Regions from separate parts of the Homo sapiens genome. Here region 1 is linked to region 2. A link means that fine-mapping ties the variant in region 2 to the expression of a gene that starts in the linked region. Tissue or cell type: fibroblasts. Region 2 holds a variant in brackets; the other region holds the start of a gene. All regions are shown on one strand. Distances are between the middles of the regions. Region 1 holds the start of ACP6 (acid phosphatase 6, lysophosphatidic). Region 2 has its middle 34 kb from the start of ACP6.

What was found. PIP is the estimated chance that this variant, and not a neighbour inherited with it, causes the effect.
Region 1: it holds the start of ACP6, and the variant in region 2 is fine-mapped to the expression of ACP6 in fibroblasts (GTEx, PIP above 0.99).

What each region holds. Positions count from the first base shown.
Region 1 is chr1:147,669,044-147,671,952 of GRCh38, forward strand. It overlaps ACP6 (acid phosphatase 6, lysophosphatidic), which reads right to left and starts at 1,481. Exons shown (of 10, transcript NM_016361.5): 1 at 787-1,481. The coding sequence starts at 1,005. RefSeq lists enhancers at 329-1,272, 484-543, 1,184-1,433, 1,874-1,943.
Region 2 is chr1:147,634,729-147,637,637 of GRCh38, forward strand. It overlaps a transcript of ACP6 not described here. Among named protein-coding and RNA genes, the nearest start is that of ACP6, 34 kb to the right of the region's middle. The variant G/A (reference allele first, on the strand shown) is at 1,365.

The DNA of each region.
Region 1 (2,909 bases), 34 kb after region 2:
TTCACTAGGCCTTTCTGCTATAAAAAGTCACATCCAGGAAAGATAATCATTTTTTTTTAAACTATTTGTGCTTTAGTCATAATTATCCTGACAAAACCAGACAGATTTTTAAAACATTACTGCCACAGACTAGCCCATTTTAAATTTGTTCCGACCTCAGATCCCTCCCACTATAGGTTTAGTAACCTTAAATAGAAAAGGAGAACCCTAGAATACAACACTTGTTACAAAAAAAAACTTCAGGAGATCTCAAATGGCCTCCAGCAAACCCTGAGAAAAAGCAGTTATAAAGTTTGTTTCCAAAGGCAACGACCTCTTATCCACTGTAATCTCAGTTAAGAGTGGTTCCTATCACTAAAGTCCCTTCAGCCCTTCAGCTCTGACAAACCACCTTCAAAATGGTCACACAGAAGTGCACTGCACCCTTGTATTCAAGTTCACCTAGACCCTTAATAGAAATGCTGACCTGGGGCACTACTCCACACCTGCTGAATCAGAATCTGCAACGTAGCAGGATCCCCAGGCGACTCCCATGCGTCTTAAGCAGCGCTTACTGATGGCTGCGCCATCAGGGCAAAACTGGAAGTTCCGGGGCTGTCCTAACCCCAGCAGGTCCTTTGCTCAAGAGCCTGGGGAGTCACTGGCTACTGCTGTTTTCCCTTCTTCTGGACCCAACCCGAGCCCCGCTCCGCGCGAGTAAAGCTCTGAAGATGTGTGTCAGGGCGAGACTCCTGGCCTGGCACACGGTCCTCGCCCCACCAGCCCCAGCCCGGGCCGACCTCTCACCTGCTCCTCCAGCGGGAGCGGCTTGAGAGGACTCCGAGCCCCGTGTCGAAACACGACCTGCACCATTTTCAACTTCAGCAGGCTGCGGTCGACCGGACACTGGCCATCGGCCTCCTGCAGCTCGGCCAGGGCCACCCGCCGCTGGTGCAGGCAGTACGCCAGCGAGGTCAGGACGCCCACTGGGGTCCACAAGCGCATGCTGAACACACCAGTGATCATGGTGGTAGGCCCTCGCTGCCCTCCGGGTTGAGGCTGCAGGAGGCAAACACAAGTCTTCTGCGGGCGCCGGGGCTCAGCGGGCGCCCCCAAGTCCGCGGGAACCTGCGGATGCGTACATCCAGCCCTTCAGCAAGCAGGGACCGCTGTGCCTCCCGGCCCTGAGGGAGACCCCGAGTGGGAACGGGGGAGAGAACAAGAGGTGGCAGCAGCGAAGAGTCCCTGGGAGTTTTAACCCGGGTCGGGGTTGGTCGCTCCTGCTGCACACCGGGCCGGGGGAGATCGGATCCTTATCTTTTGCCCGACGAGGAACATTAAACTTGTATTTCAAGTTTGGCCTCCAGCACTCTTGAAGGAACAGGAGCCGGCCCTGAGTTCCCTGGCGGCAGCGGCTCCACCAGCAAGGACTACTCGATTCCACTTTTCTATAAGCAAGCTCCTACCCACCTCCTCACCTACTCAGGGACCCGTCCCAAGTGGACCCGCGCACAGGAGCACGGGAAAACGAGTCCTGTGGTGACACCTCGCCTGGAGACTCAGAGCTGCGGAAACTACAACTCCCACAAGGCTGCGCGTACCGCGGCTCCCAAGAAGTGGCTTGTACCCGCCCCCCTCGCCTGCGGGCCTCGCCCCTCCGGCCCAGCCAGCCGTTTTCCAGGCGTGGATGGCCCACGGACGTGCCTGGTCCGGCAGTGGAGTGGTAGTGAATCTGTCGGGCCATGGAGTTTGCCAGGCAGGAGGATCGCGAGCGCAGGAGTAGAACTGGGTGGTGGAGGGGAGTAGTTTGAGTCTAGTTTTGAATGTAGAAGACTTCCTTCCAGTCCTGGAAGCCTGGTTGCTGCAGCGAGGAGCTGAGACACCTGCCGAGTGATTGCCATTTGCGAAACACAGCACTAGGTGCTTTATATTTAGTCATTTACTACTCCCTTCTCTGTTTTTAAAAAAATTCTCAAGCTTAAGTCATTGTAATCATGTAGAACTTTCAGGTCACTGATGTGTTTACTTCCATCCAGAATACTTCTTGTGGAAAAAGCCAGGCCTTGCCTGTGGGTGTCCCAGTGATTAAGAACCTAAGAGGCGCCATGGCTCACGCCTGTAATCCCAGCACTTTGGGAGGCCGAGGCGGGTAGATCATGAGGTCAGGAGATCGAGACCATCCTGGCTAACACGGTGAAACCACGTCTCTACTAAAAATACAAAAAAAAAAAAAAAAAAAAATTAGCCAGGCGTGGTGGCGGGCACCTGTAGTCCCAGCTACTCAGGAGGCTGAGGCAGGAGAATGGCGTGAACCCGGGAGGCGGAGCTTGCAGTGAGCCGAGATCGCGCCACACGACTCCAGCTTGGGCAACAGCGCAAGACTCCGTCTACAAAAAAAAAACAAAAAAAAACCTAAGAACACAGAACAATGCCAGCCTTACCACCTGCTAGTCTGGTTTCTGTTGATATACAGGTATCCCAAGCCTGTGTTTCCAGATCTTTGCAACAGGACACAATCTGGGACCCACTATGTGTCTATCTCCAAAGATCAAACTGGGCCAGATGTAAAGACAACATACTTACAGAGCATGGCTCCTGGCCTGAGAACAAATTCTGTTCACCAAGCTGGAAGGTTCTGAGTGCTCCCCTCCCTGATGCAGGGAGGAGGGTCATTTTGGAACACTACATATTGTCACAATTTTCTCCCTAGCCCAGCCAAGGGACTCACTTTTCAGAGTCTTATTGTGTGTGCTGATGTGATTAAAAATCGAATACTGTTTGCTATGGACTCAGTTGTGTCCCCCGCCAAATTCGTACCCACTAAGTGACTGCATTTGGACATAGGACTTTTAGAAGGTGATTCTGTCAGAGGCATTTGAACCATAGTGACTCCATCTTGAATAGCGGCTGGGTAAAATGAGGCTGAGACC
Region 2 (2,909 bases):
TCTACAAGGCTAGGAACTGTGGATGCAGCAGTGAACTGGTCAGGAGTGGTCCCACCCTGAGCTCATCAAACCCAGAGTCTATTGAAGAAGTCAAACACTGAATAAGCAATTATAAGCACAGTCATGGCATGAAAGAAAAGGAAGCTGCCCACATTGAAGACAGGGAAGTGCAACCTAAAATATTTTATCAAATTTCCTGAGAATCTTCTATCTACTGGTCTGTTAACCCAAAGGAGAAAGGAAATAGTTCAGCCAAGTACTAATAATGATTGCTGCTTTCTTTCCTAAGTGCTCCACAGACTTTTCCTTTGTTTAAAAGTCCACTCTAGACCAAGGAGCTCTCCAGTCCTTAAATTCTGGAGTCTATCATTTTATGGGTTTTAAAAACTAGGGCCACATTTGCCTTTGTATTTTGGTTCTTTGAGACTAGAAATCTGAGAGTATCTTCATTTCTCATAGATTACTGTCTGAAGTGACATCTATAACTTAACTTTTTATCTACTCCAGGGTATTACCTACCAAATAGGAAGATCCGAACTCATTGACATCAACCAGGTGCTGTCCTCACTGCTCTAAGATTTCAATCCCTCCCAGCAATCTTGGGCCATTTGTGGCTTAAAGGTAGATTCTGTTGTTAGGAAAGACTTACTAGGAAAGAGAGGGATTTGGATTTAACTGCTTTCATTTTCTCTCTCTCCTCTATTAAATCTTCTCCCCCAGACGCTGAGCCTATCTTTTACTTCTTCATTACTTTTTTTCTCAGAATACAGCTTAAGAGCCCTTAGCTTCCTCTTCCTGTCCCAATCTTGCCCAAGCTTCTAGTATTATCATGAGTAAAAATTAGGGAAGTTGGGGAGAAGTCCTTGTTGGGGTTGAGGGAGTGTTGAGTATGAAATGATGAAGTGGTGTCTATGTGTGGACAGTTGGAAATAAGAGACAGGGATGAATGAGCAGTTTGGACTAGATATGGAGATGTGAATTCCTCCACATGGAGATGAATATAGATTATTTCTCTATGGGAGTGAGAGAATAGAGAGCCAAGTGGAGGGCCAAGAACTCAGTCATGAGGGATTGGCACAGTCCGCAGGCAGGAAGAAGTTCCAGCAAAAGAAACTGAAATTCACAGAATAGGAAGAAAACAGAAATGATCTAGCCCACCTCTCCCATCTAACTGATGAGGAAATGGTTGTCCAGATAAAAATGAATCAGTGACTAAGGCAGCTATGAAAATATAGAGTTGCATAAGTCCTGAGGGGTTGGGGGAGTGGCTTTCAAGAAATAGGAGGTGGTCCACAGGGCCAAATACTTCTGATCAATCAAAAAAGGTGAGGAAACTAACGATGGTACTTGAAATTGATTAATGT[G/A]TTGGTCTCCCAGAGTGTAGCTGTGGTAAAGCAGAAGACAGAGAAACCTAAGCATGTGGGGGAAAGGGTGTAAATGTGAAAGAGGCAAAGAGATACTGAGTTATACATGCTCAGTACGTTTGGCAGTACCAGGCAAGAGAAATAGGATGGTTAGATAGAAGAAAAATATAAATAAGCAAAGTTTAAGACAACAGAAGTACTACTAATTTAAGACAGAAAGGAAGGAACCAATTGAGTGGGAAGGATTGAGGACACAAAAGAAGTCCTGCCATCTTTGGCAGGAAGATCACAAGAAGCGGGACAGGAACTGAAGCACAGGTAGCGGTAAGCTTTGGGGAAAGAAAGATACCAGAAGTGAAAGGAGAAAGGTGCCATGTGTGATGAAGCAGATAAAGCAAAGAGACAAAGGGACACATCCCGGAAGCCAGATGTGCAGATATGGAAGGAAAACATGCTGATCCTCAGGTCAAAGGTGAAAGTTTGAGTCCTGCCTCTGCCTCTCCCTGGATATTTGACTTTGATCTCTTTGAGCTGGCTGCTTCACATTTGGATGTCATAGGCTTTTTGTGAAACTGTTATCGGACAACATGTGTGTATGCCTAGTATGAGTTATCAGAGCATTTTTGAGAGATGCCTTAGGCTGTAATGCAAAAAGATATGAAATGGCTGCTCTGGTAAATTAGAAAGCTCACAAGATACACCAGCTGGGCAGTAAGAGGGTTCTAGCTGAAGCAGAAAATCATGATTCTTCTTTCAGAAGGGACACCCAGGGACCCCTCTTGCTGCCCTCCTGGGCACTGAAAGGTAGCACAGAAAAGCCATAGAGAAAGAAGCACCACAGTGGAAATTCCATGATGGGATGGTGGTGGCCACAGCAGGAAGGCATTTTCAAGAGCTACTGGAGTCCCCAGGCCCAGCCAGCCCAAGGTGGGGATAACAGCAACACTTTAATAAGGTTACACTGGGGTCACCAGATTCTCAAGCACTTCTCTCCTCCTGCTTTTAAAGTTCAGAATCATCTAATTAGAGGACCAAACTCCATCCCTGACCACATGAAAAGCAAAATGAGGCCTGACTCTGACTCAAACTGTTCACAGAGAATGAAGGATGCTGTGGAATCCTAGAACTTCAGATTCTCATGGTAGGCAGGGACTGGCCCGTGTGTGACCCTCTACAATACTTTGCCTAATGCCAGTGTAAGCTTATAAAAGAACCCTCTAAGGTAGCCCAATTCATCCATGGTCAGCTCTGATTATTTCAAAGGTTTTCCTTATGTTGATCTCAAGTCTATACATCCCTGCAACTTACACAATACTGTTCTGCGTGTGGTCCTCAGTGCCCACATAAATCAAATATTTGATATGCCCTCTGTCTCTTTGATCCCTTCCTCTTGATGGTCTTTCTCCAATTGACAAGCTTGTCTAGCTCTGCTACCAAGTCTGGCTCTCAGATCTGAGAACAGTTCCCTGGCTGTGCTCTGAACTGTGCAGGATGGAACATCACTTCCTTCATTCCAGTACCAGGATAGCCATTGCACATTTAGGA